Linked DNA regions of Homo sapiens. The main gene of each other region encodes a partner of the protein of the gene in region 2 in a complex. Each region holds a gene or a part of one and is shown on either strand. Other genes may lie near its edges. The genes, in order: GEMIN2, GEMIN5 and GEMIN4.

Region 1 (6,941 bases), on a different chromosome or scaffold from region 2:
GAGGGCTGGAATGTGGCGAAACCCTGTGTCTCCTAAAAATACAAAAATTAGCCAGGTGTGGTGGCCTCAGAAGGCTGAGGCACAAGACTCGCTCAAACACAGGAGAGGCGGAGGTTGCTGTGAGCAAAGATCGCAACTACACTGCAGCCTGGGCAACAGGGCGACAGAGCAAGATTCTGTCTCAAAAAAAAAAAATCCCACCTAGAATGCCTTTTAAAATGTCAGTTTCTTAGCCCCACACCCCATCAACAGAAACAGAAGCTCTGGAAGAAATAGCTGTAAAATACAGGATTCCATATTTTAAATAATTTCTTCCAGTTTTTTTTTTTTTTTGGAGACTGAGTCTCACTCCATCGCCCAGGCTGGAGTACAGTGGTGCTATCTCGGCTCACTGCAACCTCTGCCTCCTGGGTTCAAGCAATTCTCCCACCTCAGCCTCCCAAGTAGCTGGGATTACAGGTGCACGCCACCATGCCCAGCTAATTTTTTGTATTTTTAGTAGAGACAGGGGTCTCACCATGATGGCCACGCTGATCTCAAACTCCTGATTTCAAGTGATCCACCTGCCTTGGCCTCCCAAAGTGCTGGGATTACAGGTGTGAGCCACCACGTCCAGCCGGATGACTCTTATACACACTAACATTTGAGAATAACTGAGCCACTTAAAGGGATAGAAAACACAGAGACATGGGAGGCTGAAGCAGCTAGATCATCTGAGGTCAGGAGTTTAAGACCAGCCTGGCCAACATGACAAAACCCGTCTCTACTAAAAATAAAAAAATTAGCCGGGCATGGTGGTGGGTGCCTATAATCCCAGCTCCTCAGGAGGCTGAGGCAGGAGAATCACTTGAACCCGGGAGGCACAGGTGGCAGTGAGCAGTACCACTGCACTCCAGCCTGGGTGACAGAGCGAGACTCCGTCTCAAAAAAAAAAAAAAAAAAAGGAAAATAATAAAAGAAAAGAAAACACAGAGACAGAGATAAACTGTAGTTGGCTGTGTAAGGTTGACTTAACAGATGCCTCCATCATCAATAAACAGCCACATCATCAATAAACACACAACAGAATGTTCTGTTCTCACAATCGTCATGTAACTCCTACAGCTAACCAATCGTGTGAGAAATACTGAAACAAGAATTTTTCCATCATAAACTAAAAACCGGCGATAAATCTCTAAAAACAGGGCACCAGAAGTAGTTCAGTACCTTAGGAATATTTCTTCCTGGGAATAGATGAAATGTTATTGTAGTTTCAGAAGTTCACCTTTCCAAATAGCGTTTTTTCAGAATAACTTCATCAACCAAATATAACTTATCTCATGTGTTCCATATTTCACTGAAGCATTAAAAAATACTTAGTGCAATTTCTGAAAACTTCACTCAAAAAATCATTACTAATTCTTTTAAATAAAATTAGATTTGAAGTAGCACGAAGCTATATTATTACCTCTTCTTTTGGAAAATAATTTATTATTATTTCCCAGGACAACCTTTGTTCCATTCTCCTATTGTCTCCTTTCTTCCTTAATCCATGCATAGTTCTGACACATACTTATGCACAAACTCCAATGTTAGCCATTGTTCCATTGGTAGTTGATTGGCAAGGTAACCTTTTCTCCAGAAAAAAATTGAAAGAAAATGCTAATAATTTACAGTAAAAAATAAAAATTAAAAAAAATGTATTTGTGGCCTGGCCCAGTGGCTCACACCTGTAATCCCAGCACTTTGGTAGGCCAAGGTGAGTGGATCACTTGAGCCCGGGAGGTCAAGGCTGGGTAATATTTTATTTTATTTTATTTTATTTTATTTTTTTGAGATGGAGTTTTGCTCTTGTTGCCCAGGCTGGAGTGCAATGGCACAATCTGGGCTCCCTGCCACCTCCGCCTCCTGGATTCAAGCGATTCTCCTGCCTCAGGCTCCCAAGTAGCTGGGATTACAGGCGCCCACCACCATGCCCAGGTAGTATTTTGTATTTTTACCAAAGACGGGGTTTCACCATGTTGGCCAGGCTGGTCTCGAACTCCTGACCTCAAGTGATGTGCCCAGCTCGGCCTCCCAAAGTGGTGGGATTACAGGCATGAGCCACTGCGCCTGGCCAAGATTCTTTACGGATGCAAAATTTCCTCCACAAAGAACAGCTTTGCAGGGCCATTTCAAAATACGGCAAAGAAACATGTTTTGGGGTCAAATATTTTTATTTTCTTCTTTGTCTCGTAATGTCATTTCGAAGTGAGGTTGAAAAGTAAATCGTGATATATAGGGTTAAATAAAACCCATCTGATGAGAATTTATGATTTGTAGGGCATGACTCCCCAGACCCCTTAGATAGGAATTTGGGCAAAATAAAAAAATCAGGCCGGGCGCGGTGGCTCATGCCTGTAATCCCAGCACTTTGGGAGGCCGAGGCGGGTGGATCACGAGGTCAGGAGATCGACATCATCCTGGCTAACAAGGTGAAACCCCGTCTCTACTAAAAATACAATAAATTAGCCGGGCGTGGTGGCGAGTGCCTGTAGTCCCGGCGGCTACTCGGGAGCCTGAGGCAGGAGAATGGCGTGAACCCGGGAGGCGGAGCTTGCAGTGAGCCGAGATTGCGCCACTGCACTCCAGACTGGGCGACAGAGCGAGACTCCGTCTCAAAAAAAAAAAAAAAAAAATTCAGTTTAGTCCTCACGTCACTACTTACTTTTTCAAATTTGTCCTTGATTATCACCAAAATGTTGGACGACAGGAGTATTTCTCCCTATTCTAAGTCTGTTTTTCCCAAAACCAGTGAAAATTTGTTAACCAAATAACTGTAGTTTGCAGCCAGGTGATATCTTTCCAAGTGTCCCAATTGTTTAGTTACAGTTCCTAAGCATTAAGTACTTAAATAAGCTAAGGACTATCCTCACTTTATCTTCAATTTAGACTTACATCCTGGTTTGAAATCAATTCCTTGCAAACTAAAGGCAGTGCCATAAATAAAAATTTTTAACCTTCTAAAATAAACATCAGTGTTAGAAAATAAGTCAATTGTATTCACTCAATTGTATTTGTTTAGAAATAATCAGATATTATACTTGTTTCTTGCACATTCTTGCCTTGTTTCCTCACCTATGAAATGGAGATAATAATACTATCTACCTAACAAGATTGACCTAACATTTTTGTTAATTTCTGGGTGTTAGCATTAGTTTCATTTTTTTCACTATTTGTATTTAAACGAAGAGATTTTTCTTTAAAACAAAAATTAAAAAGTGCTGGCTATTCTAGGAGTAATATTCATTCCAAATAAACATACAGTGATCTTTGAAGTGGTCAAGCACTAGAAATTTCTGTAGAAAATTAATTTTTCATTCATTTGGCATCGCATAAATCTAGGTTGGAATTGGTTCTTCCTCTTTGGAAGGTCAGTCCCTGCCCTAAGAGAGCGGTATATTACCACCCACTTCACAAGACTGTTCTAAGAATCAAATGAGAAAATGTGTTTATGAAGAGTTTAAGAATTTAGAGCTCCATGAATGATAATTACAGTAATATTGTTCATTAATTCAAAAAACATTTTTAAGGATCCCTCACTACTAGGGATGCATAAAAGTTGCTAACCCTCGGCCTTTACCCAGCGTTAGAAGACAAAACAGAGGGTAAAAGTCCCAGAAACGCGTTCGAACCAATTCAGCTAGGAATTAAATTCTCAGATCCTTTATTACACCACCGGAGCCTTAACCTTGAGGCAAGCAGCAATTTGTTCATGCGCAGTTAACGCTCCCTAAACTGCCACTTGCTCAGCTCCGCGCCTAAGGTGTCTATTAGTACGCCTGCGCTGTGACCTAGAATGGGCGCATGCGCCGAGCGGAACTGGCTGGTTTGAAAACCATGGCGTGGGTACCAGCGGAGTCCGCAGTGGAAGAGTTGATGCCTCGGCTATTGCCGGTAGAGCCTTGCGACTTGACGGAAGGTTTCGATCCCTCGGTACCCCCGAGGACGCCTCAGGAATACCTGAGGCGGGTCCAGTGAGTGATTCGGCCCTGGGCGGGTGGGCTGGTCTTCTGCCCTGCCCCTGGGTACAGCCCTCGGTGCTCTATTCCCGTTCCAGTCTGTTGCGAGTTCAGGTCTATTCAGGATTCTGGATTACATCCTAACGTGGGCGAGTTTCTGTTGAACGTGATTGCACGTATCAAGATGTGTGCTCTTAGATTTGTTTTCAATCCAGATAATTTCAGAAATACATTGTTTAGTACCTCAATTGGAAGTCTGAATTTTTTTCTGATTTCACAATGAACTGTGGAAGTGGATCGCTTGTTTTACTACACCTGAGCAAAGCACAACAGAAATTTAATTTATCGCGTTTATTACTTATTTGTAGGATCGAAGCAGCTCAATGTCCAGATGTTGTGGTAGCTCAAATTGACCCAAAGAAGTTGAAAAGGAAGCAAAGTGTGAATATTTCTGTGAGTTTTATTAACCGTCTGGAGATTACCCCCAACCCCCCAATTAAAAGACTAACGCTCTTCCTATAGTATCTGACAGCATCAATTATGACGTAAGATTTGACTACTCCGTGCAAAGTTAGACATTCGCTTGTACTTTTTCCTTCAGAAAGACAATTGGCATTTACTGCCTCTAAAGAGGCTTTCTGTAACTCTAGCCTTTGTGGAGTGTTGCCCATCTTACTTCAGGACATTATCCAGTCCTTTCAAAGGAGTCTTTAAATGGGTTACTTATGTTATCTTTTATTTTTTGCTTGTTTGTTTGTTTATAGAGAGGGAGTCTCTGTTGCCAGCTGGTCTGGAACTCCTGGCCTCAAGTGATCCTCCCTCCTCTGCCACCCAAAGCGTTGGGATCACAGGCGTGAGCCACCTCACCTGGCCCCTTTATTTTTTAAGGAACTTTTTCCAGTTATTGGATTGGTGTTTAATCTTAGTGTGCTTTGCATGTTCTGAATTTGACCAAGTTTCACTTTTTTTAAGAATAGAAACCCAGATGTCTTACACTTTTTTTTTTTTTTTTTTTGAGACAGTTTCACTCTTGTTGCCCAGGCTGCAGTGCAGTGGTGCGATCTCAGCTCACTGCAACCTCTGCCTTCCGGTTTCAAGCGATTACCGTGCCTCAGCCTCCCGAGTAGCTGGGATTACAGGCGCCCACCACCACACCCGGCTAATTTTTGTATTTTTAGTAGAGACGGGGTTTCACCATGTTGTCCAGTCTGGTCTTGAACTCCTGACCTCGTGATGCGCCCACCTCTGCCTCCCAAACTGCTGGGATTACAGGTGTGAGCCACCATACCCGGCCTTACACTTTTATAGCTACTTGCACACTCTGGACATTTTCATTTATTTATTTATCCAGCACATCTTTAATTAAGCAACTAGGTTGTGCCGGGCATTGGGAATTCAACAGAGGGTAAGACAAAAAAGGTTCCTACCCTTGTAGAGTTTACATACCCTCCTGAGGAAGACAGAGAGTAAACAAGCAAACAAATAATTACATATTGTGATTATTGCTATGAAGAAAATAAGCATGTATAATAATCAATAAATGACAGAACTACTGTAGAGGAATCATAGAAGGGCTCTCTTTTTCCCCCTTTTTTTTTTGCGTCTCAATTTTTCGCCCAGGCTGGAGTGCAGTGGCACAATCTCAGCTCATCACAACCTCTGCCTCTCAGGTTCAAGAGCTTCTCTTGCCTCAGCCCCCTGAGTAGCTAGGATTACAGGCGTGTGCCACCACACCTGACTAATTTTTGTATTTTTAGTAGAGACGTGGTTTTACCATGTTGGCCAGGCTGGTCTCAAACTCCTGACCTGAAGTGATCTGCCTGCCTCTGCCTCCTAAAGTGCTGGGATTACAGATGTGAGCCACCACGCCTGGCCAGCAAAGGTCTCTCTAAGGAGGTGCTATTTAACCTAAGCTCAAAGGAGGGTGGCATTTTATTTTATTTCTTTTTCTTTTTTTTTTTTTTTTGAGATGGAGTCTCAGAGTCTCGCTCTGTCGCCCAGGCTGGAGTGCAGTGGCGCGATCTCGGCTCACTGCAACCTCTGCCTCCCGGGTTCACACCATTCTCCTGCCTCAGCCTCCCGAGTAGCTGGGACTACAGGCGCCTGGGAGAGTGGCATTTTAAATAGTTGATAGTAATTTCCTTTTCATGCTCAAAGTAGTTTCTCTGATACTTGTAATCAGGAAATTTTAATTCAGACACTGTAATTTTTCCTATAATTCCTCTTCAGGGTTTTTTAGTTGATGGACATTTAATGGAACAGAATGTCTTAATATACCTAATTTGATGGATTGATTGATTGATTGATTGAGACAGGGTCTCGCTTTGTTGCACAGGCCAGAGTACAGTGCCACGATCATAGCTCACTGCAGCCTCGAGTTCTTGGGCTCAAGCCATCCTCCCACCTCAGTCTCCCCAGTAGCTGAGATGACAAGCATGTGCCACCGTGCCCAGCTAATTGTATTTTTTGTAGCGACGGGGTCTTGATATGTTGCTCAGGCTGTATGTGCTCTTTTAGAAAACAGAAGTATGGCTGGGCTTAGTGGCTCACACCTGTAATCCCAGCACTTTGGGAGGCCAAGTCAGGCGGATCACCTGAGGTGGGGAGTTCAAGACCAGCCCGACCAACATGGAGAAACCCCATCTCTACTAAAAATACAAAATTAGCCGGGTGTGGTGGCACATGCCTGTAATCCCAGCTACTCGGGAGGCTGAGGCAGGAGAATTGCTTGAACCCGGGAGACGGAGATTGCAGTGAGCTGAGATGGCCATTGCACTCCAGCCTGAGCAACAGGAGCGAAACTCCGTCTCAAAAAAAAAAAAAAAGAAAACAGAAGTAGACAATTTAAAGTTAAGCGTCTTTAAGTACATTTTGCCCATACCAAAGTTCTTATTTTTAATTTTATTGATACATAATAATCATAATTTCATGCTTTATCACGCAGGCACAATAATAATTGTA
Region 2 (6,408 bases):
TCCATCCCTGGTAACAAAGCATCGTCTTCCTAAAGTTCACTTCACTGTATGAAGAACTGTGAGGATCTAAATTCTACAGTATTTCCCTTTGTGAGTTTATTAAACTCTAATGCTAGGCACATACACGTCTTTGAAAACTGCCTCAAACTTTCTCCTTCCTGGGACTTCCTGTAAATGAATTTCATTCTCACTGTCCCAACAGCTCCAATCCTAGGAATTAATTGAAAAATAAACTACAAACGTGAGCAGAAAAGCCTTCACAATGAATCCTAGAGAAAACAGTTCAATTATCTGAAAGGAGTGTTCCTTCCTACACCCATGCCAGACTCTGATTTTCCCATGCTAGCAACTGTGACATTACAGAAACATCTGTTCCTGACACTGTTCAACTGTTTAAATAACCAAGGAGGAGAAAAAAAAGATTTATAATTAAATAGTATTTAGGGTCCCAATAGTCAGAGTCCAATAATCCAAAGGTCATCTATGCAAAATTAGGAATATGCATTTTTCTCCAAAGAGTATCTTTGGCTTTAATCTGATTCTCAAAAGGATCCTATGATCCAAGAAAGTTTAAGAACCATTGAAACAGTAATTTATTCCTGAGCTATTTGACTGCCATCAATCCATTTGTTATAAAACTGAAGGGAAAACACACATTTGAATCACTTCTTCTAAAGCTTTAGTAAGTGATCTGTTCAAATAAGCAATTACATGAAAGAATAAAACCAAATTTCCAACCTAAAATTCTGACAGGAGAGTCAACATGATGGTTAAGGCCTATTTCATATTCAAACTTCAGTCTATGAAAGAGTAGAGAGAGAAGGGTCTCCTCTTTCAAATTAAATATTATAAAAACAATTAAAAAAAGGTATCAATAGTCCTAAAATGCAGCAACTCCATCTCAAACAAGCATGACACACTTCTGATCAGATGAAGTATTTACAAAGGTAGCTTGTGTTTTAAGCATGTAACACTTTGGGTGACGACAGAAGTTTCTCCTCTTTGGGTGAAACCTGCCTAAGGCTGTAGAGATGACCAACACTCTGCAGGTGTTAGTTCTGAATAACTACTGTGGGCTTTTCATGATCTTCCCTCCAGTAGGAGACCACAATTGAGTCTAAAGTCAGATCCACCGTTGTCTATGGGTAGGCAGGGTTGATTCAAACTTAATCCTTGTTTGTATTCTTTTGGATTACTGCAAAAACATCTAGGGACCAGAGTGAATGTCTGGTGAGGCATAACTGCAGAGGTGAAAGATGTCAAACATTTTCAATTTGGCAGTTTCTTCAAGGTGTGTGAAAATTCACATACAGAAGGTCTGGCAGTGTCTTCTGTAAGTTTTCGTGTTGCCGTATTTCTGAAGGAGCTCTTGGGCCTGCTGCTGCATTTCCTGGGCCAGACAGCCAGGAAAGTGGGACCTGATGAGAAGCAGGACGAGGCAGCACTCCAGCACATCTGGGAAGGGCCAGGCCTGAAAGACGATGACATGAGGATGAATAAGGAAGCATTTGCAGAAGAGCCACAAACACCTGCACAGAAGGCACCAGTCACTCAGGTTCATCTATAGACACTTCTTGGACACAGCTGAGCCAGCTGTCTCCTAAGGCAATGTCCTGTCTTTCTCTTCAACAGTTACTCCAAGGAGAAATGACACTCAAAACTAGGATGGCTACTGCGATGTCCTTCTCAATGGCACAATCTCTTTCTACAGCCCTATGCAAATCCACCCTTAAAAATGGTGCTTCTATTAATATTTGGGCCCACAGCCAAAAAGACCTGTCCATCTGTAAGCTATCTAATACATGGCACCAATTTAAATTTTACTTCTTACCTATTAAATCTATTTGGTTTCTCTGAAGATTGAGGTATAAAATTACTTGTGTGATCGATAATTCTAGTCTCACAAAACATTCTAGCTAACCAAAGTAATTGGATTCTAAATTCTTTTTTTTTGTTTTGTTTTTTTTTTGAGACAGAGTCTCGCTCTGTTGCCCAGGCTGGAGTGCAGTGGCGTGATCTTGGCTCACTGCAAGCTCCGCCTCCTGAGTTCACGCCATTCTCCTGCCTCCATGCTATTCTCCTGCCTCAGCCTCCCGAGTAACTGGGACTACAGGCACCTGCCCCCACGCCCGGCTAATATTTTGTATTTTTAGTAGAGACGGGGTTTCACCATGTTAGCCAGGATGGTCTTGATCTCCTGACCTCATGATCCGCCAGCCTCAGCCTCCCAAAGCGCTGGGATTACAGGCGTGAGCCACCACGCCCAGCCTGGATTCTAAATTCTTAAGCACATATGAATGGGTAGAGATTTTAGAAACTGAACAGAGAGGTAGCTGACCTTTATAAGAATGTGGTATAGTCAAGTGATAACACAAAAAGTGATGCTTTACCAAATGAACTGCTTTAACTCTTACCTTAATGCTCTCAGGAAATTTCGCCATTCTCTGATTTGCCTCGGTAAGCCTTTTGGTTAACTCAGGCAGAGAAAGTGGCTCATTTTTTTCTTCTTTACTAGTGAAAAAAATAAAAGGTGTAAATTGTATGTCTTGCCCTGGGTAACATTTTTCTCCCATTGTTATTTTACTGTGGTAAAATGTATATAACATAAAGCTTACCATCTTAGCCATTTAAAAATACATAGTTCAGTGATTTTAAATAAATTCATAATGTGGTGAAAAACATCCCCACCACCCATTTCCAAAAACTCTTGTCATTTTGTAAAACTGAAATCTTATACCCATTAAACATTAACTTCTCATTCTGCTTCCCTTAGCCCCTGTCAACATTATTCTACTTTCTGTCTCTATAAATTTAACTATTTTGAGTAGTTCATATAAGTGGAGTCATATAGTATATGTCTTTTTGTGACTGGCTTATTTCACTCAGCATGATGTCCTCCCTTCGTAAGGCTGAATGACATTCCATTGTATGGATATGGCACATTTTGCTTATCCATTCATCTGTCAGTGGATACTTAGGTTGCTCCCGTGTTTTGGGTATTATGAATAATGCTGCCATGAACACAGGTGTGCACATATTTCAGACCCTGCTTTCAATTCTTTTGGGTGTATACCCAGATGTGGAAGTGCTGGATCCTATGGTCATTCTATTTTACATTTCTGGAGGAAGTGCTGCTGTACTGTTTTCCACAGTGGCTGCATCATTTTACATTCCCACCAATAGGCACAAGGGTTCCAATGTCTCTGCATCCTCCTCAACACTTGTTCTGTTTCTCTGATAGTAGCCTAATGGCTATGAAGTGCTGCTTCACTGTAGTTTTGATTTGCATTTCCCCAATGATGAGATGTTGAGCATCATTTCCTGTGCTTACTGGCTTTTTAGAGAAATGTCTATTCAAGTCCTTTGCCCATCCTTGAATTGGATTATCTTTTGTTATGCCTGGGTAGCTTTTACCTTTTATTTTTAATATTTTTTAAAAATTTAAACTTTTGCCTATGACACAGCCCTCAGGAGGCCCTGAGAGCATATGCCCCTGCCTGGGTTACTTTTATCTCATTTTATAAATAAAATTCCTTTGTCACCTGGCTTCTTAAAATTTAATTTTTTTTTTTTTTTTTTGTAGAGACAGGGTCTGTCAACCAGGCTGGTATGAGTGGCATGATCGTATCTCACTACAGCCTCGAACTCCTGGGCTTAAGTGATCCTCCCACCTCAGCCTCCTGAGTAGCTGGGACTACAAGTGCATGCCACCACTACTGGCTAATTTAAAAAAATTAATTTTTCTAGAGACAGGGTCTCAATATGTAGCCCAGGCTGAACTTGAGCTCCTGGCCTCAAGTGATCCTCCTGCCTCAGCCTCCTAAGTAGCTACAGGGTACATGCCACCACACCTGGTTACTTTATTTGTATTTTTTGAGATGAAGTCTCCCTCTGTTGCCCAGGCTGGAGTGCACTGGTGCGATTTTGACTCACTGCAACCTCTGCTGCCCAGGTTCAAACGATTCTCTGGCCTCAGCCCCCCAAGTAGCTGGAATTACAGGCATGTGCCACCATACCCAGCTAATTTTTAGTAGAGACGGGGTTTCACCATGTTGGCCAGGCTGGTCTCAAACTCCTTACTTCAAGTGATCTGCCCACCTCGGCCTCCCAAAGTGCTGGGATTACAAGCGTGATCCACTGTGCCCGGGCTTTTTTTTTTTTTTTTTTTTTGTAGAGACAGGGTCTCGCTTTTTTGCCCGGGCTGGTGGTGAACTCCTGGGCCAAGTGATCCTCCTGCTTCAGCCTCCCAAAGTGCTGGGATTATAGGCATGAACCACTGTTCCTAGCCAGCAGGGTCATTTTTCATTCCGTCTTGTACTTGCCTCAGTACTTACCACTGGCTCTGAGAACTGCAGAGGGGCTGCTCTGCTTCTACTTCCGGTTCATTCTTATCAGGACCATTTGCTGTGGATTTACAGAGTTGACTCTTTTGGTGTTGTCGGATCATTTCTGCCAAGGTCTCTTGGACTTCAGCAACAGTTCTCTGTGAGTTTTGGAGACTGGCATGCTTTTCTGAAAAGAGCTCCTTAAAAGTACTCAGCATTCGCTCACCTTCTTCTGTGAGTCTCAAGTCTAGTTCTGAAGGCCTGTTTGGCTCTGGCTGAGAAGTTTCAGGGTCCGTTTCTTCAGTGCTGGCAGTGTCTAACTGCTGGCTTGGCTCAACAGAGAGTGTTCTGTGACCAGCCCTTACCCAGACACTGGAATTTGGGCAAGGTCTGGAGAGAGACCACCAGAATTCATACAGACGCCCATAAAGAAAAAAGGCCTCCAAACTTTTGAAAGCTGGTGTGGCAGGGGATTGATGGTCCCCCAACTTGTCTCTTAGGTGGTCACAGCCTAGGAAAAGAGGAAAAAGATACTGGGTCATGCATTTCTCTAGTTGCCAGAAATGTGGCTTCCTGCCCTTATGTTCTATTTCTTATCAACCAAGAAGCAGACCCCAGGAAAAAGGACAACAGTGTGATCCACCGGGCCACATGCCTTTCCACCAAGAGCCAACTGGAGGCTAAACATTTCCTGGCTTGCGACAGTGTTCTCATTACTACATCCTAGGAGTCATTCAAAGCATGATAGAGTATTCCATTTGTACTACTGAAGGCTCTGGGGCCACGACAACAGATCACACTGTCTCTCTGAAAAATCACAATGATTTAGTTCAGTGACTGACTATGCAGCCCAAGGAATGTCTATCTTTTTTGCTGTTCTTTTCTGTTCTTACTAACATGTAACTACATTCCTATTTCTCTCTCCCTTAAACTTTGTGGAAAGTGGACAGGAGGCTGTAAGAGGGTAGGGCCAGGTAAAGGAAACAGTATAGTTGTTCTTAAAAGCTTCGGTAAGAGAATCCAAACTTTCTACTAAAATGACACAGCTGGCCAATCTCCATCTTTTAAGAATCTAGGTACTCCCAGTGCCACACCACTAATGGTGGTGATGTTGTCCATTAAAGGGTGTGCCTCAGGCAGCAGGAAGTCACTTACCGTCAGGGAGAAAGGCTGAGTACACTTCCTGCATGATGGTGAAGCTCCCTGAGTCATAGCTCCGGACCACCGCCCGAAGGAGCGCCTGCACAGCCTCGTCCCAGGAGGCCATCTGTTGGCTCAGCACTGCCAGGGTCAAGTCATGGCAAATGTGAAGCAGGAGCTGGAGAGAGAAGCCAGAGTCTGAGTTAAACATCCTCCCACGGTAGGCGCAGAGGATGCCACCAAACTGTTCCTGTGAACCGCATTTGGAAACAAGTACACACAATTCACACTTTGAAAGTTCCTCTTGTCTCCGCCACCCATTTTTGCTTCCCACATCGGAAACTCTCATGTCTAGTTGCACAGCAGCACACACACGTCCCGGTGTTAAAGTCTGTTCACACTGAGAAAACACCTTTACATTTGCATTTAATTAAAACAAAAAGTGGGCCAGGCGCGGTGGCTCATGCCTGTAATCCCAGCACTTTGGGAGGCCAAGGTGGGCAGATCACAAGGTCAGGAGTTCAAGACCAGCCTGGCCAACATGGTGAAACCCCGCCTCTACTAAAAACACAAAAATTAGCCAGGCATGATGGCGCGTGCCTGTAGTCCCAGCTACTCGGGAGGCTGAGACAGAAGAATTGCTTGAACCCGGAAGGTGGAGGTTGTGGTGAGCTGAGATTGCGCCACTGCACTCCAGTCTGAGCATGAGAGTGAGACTCCCTCTCAAAACAAACAAACAAACAACAAAAACAAAAAGTGAGTTTCTGGAACTAAAAGCTGTAATTAAAAACAAAATAAAGGCTGGGTGCAGTTGCTCACACCTATAACCCCATCACTTTGGGAGGCTGAGGCGGGCGGATCACCCGAGGTGAAAGCCCGTCTCTAAAAAAAAAAAAAAAAAAAAAAAAATTAGCCGGGCTTGGTGGTGCACGCCTGTAATCCC
Region 3 (8,062 bases), on a different chromosome or scaffold from region 2:
CAGCAGCAATCACACGGCCACAGGGTAATGGGCACAGCAGCAGTCACACGGCCACAGGGTAATGGGCACAGAGCAATCACACGGCCACAGGGTAATGGGCACAGCAGCAATCACACGGCCACAGGATAATGGGCACAGCAGCAATCACACAGCCACAGGGTAATGGGCACAGAAGCAATCACACGGCTACAGGATAATGGGCACAGAGCAATCACACAGCCACAGGATAATGGGCACAGAGCAATCACACAGCCACAGGATAATGGGCACAGCAGCAATCACACAGCCACAAGGTAATGGGCACAGCAGCAATCACACGGCTACAGGGTAATGGGCACAGAGCGATCACACGGCCACAGGATAATGGGCACAGAGCAATCACACAGCCACAGGGTAATGGGCACAGCAGCAATCACGCAGCCACAGGGTAACGGGCACAGCAGCAGTCACACAGCCACAGGGTAATGGGCACAGAGCAATCACATAGCCACAGAGCAATGGGCACAGAAGGAATCAGACAAGCCCTGCCTTCACTCTTTATAAACTTGCCTTGGGAACAGGCTTCAAACATTCTTCTAGCTTTCAGGGAAACGGTCCACCCCACAGCTCCTTCCAGTCAAAAACAAGGTACTCATGGCCCTAGCTCTGTGGGAGAAACCAGGGAGTAGATACAGAAAATACTGTGCTAGATTAAGCCTTCCTTCAGGGAACTAACGATTGACACAGACTTACCATGGAAAACATCTTGGGATGTTTAATCAGACATGGGTTTAAATCCTAGTTCAGCCATTTAAAAATGATGTGATTCTGGCCAGGTTCAGTGGCTAGCACTTGTAATCCCAGCTACTTGGGGGGCTGAGGCAGGTGGATCCCTGAGGCCAGGAGTTCAAGACTAGCTGGGGTAACACAGTGAGACTCCCCCTCCATCTCCGAAAAAAAAAAAGGGATGTGATCTTGGTCAGATTGCTTCTCCAAGCCTTCCTTCTGCATATGTGGGGATAATACAGACTTCATGTTATGCCTTTGGGGATCATGTGATATATACCAGTCAAGCCCTTGCTAGTGGGTTGGCACTGCTATCTCCTGACCCCATCTCCCCGGGACGCTATGATGGATAAATGAGATAGAGCTACAGTAAGAATCCAGTTACAGAGTCTAATTAGGTGCTCAGTAAATGTTGGTTTCCCCAAACCTTTTCATGGTTGGCAAGACCAGAATCTTGTCACTATTCTTTGCCTCCCCCAGCTCAGAAACATCAAAGGATGTAGGTCTTTATCAGGTATGTTTCCTTTGGCCCAGAAACTAAAACGAGGGTGCAAACACTGCTCCCTATTCCTCATTCCTGAGTCATCTCCCCTTTCCCAGGAGTGAGAGATGCTACTCCTTCCTCAGTCTGTCATGCCCCCAAGAGCTCATATTCCCCATTTTCACAGGCCAGACACCAGCAGAGAAAACACTGACTCCAGGAGACTAAGGACCATCTTACCCCTCCCACCATTTATGGGAGCGGCAGCAGGCCAAGGGCTCAGCACTATGTAACCCACTTGTGGAGGCAATCCATCTCATCTCACAGTGGCTGAGACCGACTCCCAGGGAGGGTTACGCTGCGAAGGGGACCTCCCTGGGGGTTACCGCCCTTCTTTCTGGCTCAGGAGGCTCTCCCAGGGTCCCAAAATATAGTCCCTCCTGACGCTGTAAATTTAATTTTATTGCATTATTGGCTTAGTTGAGCAGATGTTTGGCCCTAAACACCTGCCTTCCAGGCGCATTAAGTACGCACAGTTTGAAGTAGTAAGTCCCAGGGCGGTTACTAGCTGGAAAATACTCCGGTACTCTATCATGGATGGTTAACTAGTGCTTGCCACAGCCCGCTTCTTAGGTTTATTAAGCACCTACTCCATGCCAGACACTGTGCTAGGTGGTACACAGGTAAGATCTCTTCTATTCACAATCACCTTTTGAGGACTAGTATTCCTGCTCTAGAGATAAGGACACTGAGGCGCAGAAACGATTTGCTGAGGGTGTCCCAGCCTGAATGTGGTGGGGCTGGGAAGCAATTACGGCTGAGGGGCTCCAAGCCCTTAGAGCTCTGCCATTCCGCTCCTGAAAAGCTGTCTGGGGGCGGGGACCAGACCATTTCCCCCCAGCCTACTACTGCTGACACATCTCGGGGTGCCTCACCCCCAGCTCTCCCAGAACAGCCTCCTGGTCTTAGCAGCGTGTGCCAAGATTTAGCAGGGAGCATCTAGTTCCTATGGGCTCCCTCCCAGACCTTGCCTGTAAGATTCTGAATCCGGACGCACGCAGGTTCACAAAGTGATACCTCAGGAGCGCAGCCGCCCCCACCGCGGGTGTGACCCGCGCAACCCCACAAGGGACACTGTACCTCGGCGATCTCAATGCAAAGTCGCCCAAAACTCAGTGGGGAGACACACTTCCATTCTCCCCGCTCTGTCGATGAGGAAACGTCATGAGCGTAAGACACTTGGAGCGTTAAGACACTTGCTCAAGAACGCAGCTGCCGTTCAGGAAATGAGGCCGTCGGGGCGCCCAGGGGTGCTCGGAGGGAGCCCGTTTCCCAAAGCACGTGCGCGAGCCCCGGGCGCTTCCAAGGGCTCTAACTTCACGTCTGCTCCGTGTTTTCAAGCGCAGGGGGCCGGAGGCGGCAAGACGCGGCCCAACGCGCGGCGGGACCCGGACCACCCCCCGCCAAGGCCACCCCGGGACCCCTAGACCCGCCCCGACGCGGGGGACGTTTCGGTCCGGGCCCGCGCGAGCGTGCGCGACAGGAGGAGACGCGACGGGGCAGCACCGCTCTGGTGGCGCATTGCTGGACGCAGCCCGGGGCCGGGGAGCCGCGGCACCCACCTAGGTCCATGGCGGCGACGCCGGCGGCTGCGCGGGGCTAACGCCCCCTCCCCTCCGAGAACTCGAACGCGGCGCGGGACGCACGGCACGATGGGAGACGCAGGAGCCACGGCGGCCGCGCTTAGGCCTGCTCACAACCTCCGCCCGGCCCCGCCCACAGCCTCCGCCGCGCACGCGCAGTCCTCACGAACGAGCGCGCCAAGCGCACAGCGCCGCCTTCCGGCAGAGCCCTCCCACCAGCCCTCAGGTACCCGGACGTCGCTCACTAGACCCCTCCGCACCGTCCCCTGCCCGGCCCCTCTTCCGGGGTCCCAGCGGGTCGGGCTCATGATTCCCCGGCCCCGCATTCACCCTCACCCGGTAACCCCGGGCGTGCCCCGCACACAGTTCACCCCCACCGAGCGCCTCCCCCGGGACGCCCACCACCCAGCGCGGCCGCACCACGCGAGGCTTCCACTCCCACCCGCCCAGCTCGCGCCACATACAGTCCCTCAACGCGCTCCTGCCGCGCCGCCCCCTCCAGACAGCAGCGTTCCGGATCCTAGACGCTTTTTGACGGCTGGTCCTCCCCAGAAAATGCGCCGTGTGAGCCCAAACATGGTGGGGTTTACGCTGGACCCCGAGCTTGCAATCTGTGCTTGACAAAACACAAACATCGCGTGCCTGTCTCCTCCCCCTGAGATCGAGTAGTAACAGCCACTCCAACTCTCCACCTCCAGCTTCTAGCACCAGGGACCGCCTCCACCACCCCATGTGCCAAGTGGAGTTCGAGCTGCGCGGCCCTCAAGCAGCTGAAGGGTCCCGTGAGCGATCAGGAGAAGCTGCTGGTCTACGGCTTGTACAAACAGGCCACCCAGGGCGACTGCGACATCCCCGGCCCTCCGGCCTCAGACGTGAGAGCCAGGGCCAAGTGGGAGGCTTGGAGCGCGAAAAAAGGGGCGTCCAAGATGGACGCCATGAGGGGCTACGCGGCCAAAGTGGAGGAGCTGACGAAGAAGGAAGTGGGGGGCGTGGAGCGCGAACAAAGGGGCGTGCAAGATGGACGCCATGAGGGGCTACGCGGCCAAAGTGGAGGAGCTGACGAAGAAGGAAGTGGGGGGCGTGGAGCGCGAACAAAGGGGCGTCCAAGATGGACGCCATGAGGGGCTACGCGGCCAAAGTGGAGGAGCTGACGAAGAAGGAAGTGGGGGGCGTGGAGCGCGAACAAAGGGGCGTCCAAGATGGACGCCATGAGGGGCTACGCGGCCAAAGTGGAGGAGCTGACGAAGAAGGAAGTGGGGGGCGTGGAGCGCGAACAAAGGGGCGTCCAAGATGGACGCCATGAGGGGCTACGCGGCCAGAGTGAGGAGATGAGGAAGAAGGAGGCTGGCTGAGGGCTCCTCGGGAATGGAAAGGGCTTCTTAGACCTTGATGGCTGAAATGTCCTGAAACTGTCGCAAGCTTAGCCGAGACATCAATAAATCACTTAAACTGCATGAGAGTGACTGCTGTTGGAAAGGAGAAACTCGGTGACTGAGTGCTGGGGAGGCGTCCAAATACACAGACTAACTTTTTGTATGGTTTTGGGTGGAGTTCCCAGCTCTCCTATTACAAGAGCGTATGTAGGTATTTGGAAGGACGAGGGGGACAGTGTGCTGTGGAAATGCCCAAGATCTGAGGGCAGGAGACCATTCTCCAGTGACAGCCTCTTGGGAGGTTGAGGCCCCAGCCCCTTATCTCTTCAAGGCTGATTTACTAATACCCCAGCACCACAGAGGGGAGAGGGACTCTGTCCTCCTAAACACTAAAGTCAAGTCCAAAAGCCCCCACTGGAACACAGGGCCTACCCGGTTCATGTTTTGAGGGAGACCAAGCTTTCCGTGATGATAATGTGATGAAACAATTGATGCGCCAGAACACAGCAGTTTAGAAACAATGGAGCAGATGGTGTCAAAATCCCAGCCCCAGAAAGGCTCACCTAAGGCCGGGCAACCAAAATGTTCCCGGGACTATTCTGTACTTAACCCTGGTTTCTGCTTAGGGGACGGTGGGACAATATGCATATGGATGTCTATGTGGGATTTGTTGCAAGAGCACAACACACCCCTTGACCTATGCAAGTGCCAGAGTGTCTGAGCCCAGCTTCTACTCCTGTTAATGATCACAGGAGCCTCATACACAACCATTGTGCATGGCGGCTGGAGTATGGAGTAGTAAATGGTATCCAGAAAGGCAGGTCTACGGTGGCATATGGGATTTCCTGGTACTTCTTCTTTAATAGAAACTATCTTCACAGATCATGACATCAGGTCAGCTGCAGTTCTCACTGGGACCAATAAACAATAGAAGCAACAACCATAAAGACTTAAGAGGACAAAGGAAACCAAACCTCACTGTGTGTCTTCAAGATCTGTTCACATAGTTGCAGGAAGTTGCTGTAGACAAAGTACATTACTAAAGAATGAAGCCCACCCAGGACATCACAGCAACGAAAGAACTATTTCTGGTAACTGTGGACCAGGTGAGAGCCACACTGTAGAACAGCAGTGCTGCCCTCTCTTCTTTGGCGAATGTTATGAAGACATTCTGATGCACTTAGGATCATGATTCATGTTAAATGTAAATTAATTGTAAAAATAATACATCTTGCTCCAAAATGTGGTGACAATTTAGAAGCTGTCCACATAGCCAGACCACTCTGTAAATCACAGAACCTAGAAAGTAAAAATGTGCCATAATTAGGACAGCAGAAAGTAACAGTAAAATAAAGTTTTAAAAAAAAAAACAGAAAATAAGGATTTATCTATTTGTATTTGCTTAAGAAGAGGTTACCTATAGGATGCAGGGGGAATGGGATTGATGGGCATGGGGTATACTGTGAAAGGAAAATAAAATCTTGGGACCAAATTCACTAAGCGAAAAGGAAAAGTTAAGCTTGGAAATTGAGTCATGGAATATGCAAAAAACTTCCTTTTGTTCCTAAACAGATAAGCTACAAGACAGAAGGCCACATATCTCCCCAGGTGGTCTCCCTCACCTGACAATATAAATTAACAGCTTATCTTCATAGGTAAGGGACAAAGACAACACCAGAAACCATCCCTCACCAGCCGAGACAAAACATAGATGTACTGAGCTGAATGCATAACTGTTCCTCTGCCTGCTGCTTTCACTGTAACATATAGATTTGGTGAGCAGTAAATGTAGATTTACTGAGCTGAATGCATAACTGTTCCTCTGCCCGCTCCTTTCACTGTAACATGTAGATTTGGTGAGCGCTAAATGTAGATTTACTGAGCTGAATGCATAACTGACTGTTCGTCTGCCCGCTCCTTTCACTGTAACATGTAGATTTGGTGAGCACTAAATGTAGATTTACTGAGCTGAATGCATAACTGAGTGTTCCTCTGCCCGCTCCTTTCACTGTAACATGTAGAGTTGGTGAGCGCTAAATGTAGATTTACTGAGCTGAATGCAAAACTGACTGTTCCTCTGCCTGCTCCTTTCACTGTAACATGTAGATTTGGTGAGTGCTAAATGTAGACTTACTGAGCTGAATGCGTAACTGTTCCTCTGCCCGCTCCTTTCACTGTAACATGTAGATTTGGTGAGCACTAAATGTAGATTTACTGAGCTGAATGCAAAACTGACTGTTCCTCTGCCTGCTCCTTTCACTGTAACATGTAGATTTGGTGAGTGCTAAATGTAGATTTACTGAGCTGAATGCAAAACTGACTGTTCCTCTACCCCCTCCTTTCACTGTGACATGTAGATTTGGTGAGCGCTGATCAAAGCCTAATAAGAATGTAACCACTTATCTCCCTACCTACCCTCCTGTATTTTTCCTTTCCCTCTTCCCTCCCTTCCTGCTCTTTCCCTTTTAAATACTTGTTAGGAATAATGCTCAAAATCCTAAGGAAATAGAACACTCGAACAAAGGATTCTTAGCAAAGCAATTTTACTTCTGTGCAGAGGGGTGCCTCCTTGGCCAGTTGTCATGAGAGCACACCTGAACAAAGGGGCACGAGAGCCTTTGTTCCTGACACAAGTCCTGCCCCTCTACCCTTTCCCCATTGGCCGGGGTCAGGTCGTACAATCTAAACTAATCGCGCTTGGCTAAACATTTGATTTTTTTAGATAGGGTGGGCCCGTAAAAGAAAGCGGAGAGGAAGGGGAAGGGGTGTCTGTAATGAGCTAGAAAGTTAGTCCTCTTTCCAAATAAGGAAAGGAATGTGAGCTGGTACTGATAACGCCTGGTGCTGTGGCGTGCCTGGGCATCTCACAAAGGCAAAAAGGGAAAAGGAGAAAAAGGGGGCGGGGCGCTATGAATTAAAGAATAAAAGATTGATCAGATTATTTGAAGAGAAACGTCGTCATATCCCACATACTGAGGCCCTAAAAATCCTCTCTGGAAAGTGTGCGGGGGCCACAGATCTGTGGTTGTGTCTCAGGCACATCCTCAGCCTTGGCAAAATAAACCTCTAAATGGGCGAGACTTGTCTCAGACACTTACCCGGTTTACAATACCTTTTCATATTGTTTTCATTTTTGAACCATGTGGCTCTATTGCTTTATATAAAGAGGATGAGGCAAGGGCACTTCTTTATTATCATTGAAGTCAGAGTAAATTTACTATTGATTTCCCCTGAGGTTGGGGTAAGAACTCTTAGAACAAACAGGGAAACTTCTCAACTCTTACCCTGAATTTCAACGGACACGTTGGAGGTCTCCTGAAAACTCTGGCTGCTAAGTCACAGCGGCACTGAGTGGCAGGTGAGAGAGCCAGAAAGCCACATGAAGGAGCACTCACCGTCCCTAGGTTTGTTAATTCCGGTAACATGTCAGACGGACACGGACTTCAGACAGTCCTGCAGGCTAACTAGGAGAGCTCTGGCAACACGGCCGTTCTAAGTCTTCCCGGAGATTTAACTCAAGGCACACTTGTATTTACATGTAGGCTCCACAACCCCTTGATTCAAAAAAACAACTCTGGAGAAGCTGAAGAACTTTCCAACTTCATCTGTTTGAAACAACAGCTTGCAGCCTGAACAACGCAGTGAGACGGTCGCTACAAAAGATCAAAACGTTGGCTGGGTGTGGTGGCACGTGGCTGTGGGCCCAGCCATTCGGGAGGCTGAGGTGGGAGGATCTCTTGAGCCCCAGAGGTCAAGGCTGCAGAAAGCCACGATGGTGCCCCACTGCACTCCACCCTGCG

The links.
Region 1: GEMIN5 (region 2) and GEMIN2 share a complex: the UniProt entries of both Homo sapiens proteins name them as parts of the SMN-Sm complex.
Region 3: GEMIN5 (region 2) and GEMIN4 share a complex: the UniProt entries of both Homo sapiens proteins name them as parts of the SMN-Sm complex.

The regions. Positions count from the first base shown.
Region 1 is NC_000014.9:39,110,481-39,117,421, forward strand, and holds the start of GEMIN2 (gem-associated protein 2), read left to right. Parts: upstream 1-3,842; 5' UTR 3,843-3,858; coding exon 3,859-3,995; exon of another isoform or gene 3,996-4,348; coding exon 4,349-4,433; intron 4,434-5,208; exon of another isoform or gene 5,209-5,385; intron 5,386-6,941. UniProt on the Homo sapiens protein: The SMN complex catalyzes the assembly of small nuclear ribonucleoproteins (snRNPs), the building blocks of the spliceosome, and thereby plays an important role in the splicing of cellular pre-mRNAs.
Region 2 is NC_000005.10:154,886,907-154,893,314, forward strand, and holds the end of GEMIN5 (gem-associated protein 5), read right to left. Parts: intron 5,644-6,408; coding exon 5,481-5,643; intron 4,837-5,480; coding exon 4,335-4,836; intron 2,512-4,334; coding exon 2,415-2,511; intron 1,472-2,414; coding exon 1,304-1,471; 3' UTR 505-1,303; downstream 1-504. UniProt on the Homo sapiens protein: The SMN complex catalyzes the assembly of small nuclear ribonucleoproteins (snRNPs), the building blocks of the spliceosome, and thereby plays an important role in the splicing of cellular pre-mRNAs.
Region 3 is NC_000017.11:749,265-757,326, forward strand, and holds the start of GEMIN4 (gem-associated protein 4), read right to left. Parts: upstream 3,001-8,062; 5' UTR 2,879-3,000; coding exon 2,869-2,878; exon of another isoform or gene 2,387-2,868; intron 985-2,386; exon of another isoform or gene 733-984; intron 646-732; exon of another isoform or gene 572-645; coding exon of another isoform or gene 550-571; intron 1-549. UniProt on the Homo sapiens protein: The SMN complex catalyzes the assembly of small nuclear ribonucleoproteins (snRNPs), the building blocks of the spliceosome, and thereby plays an important role in the splicing of cellular pre-mRNAs.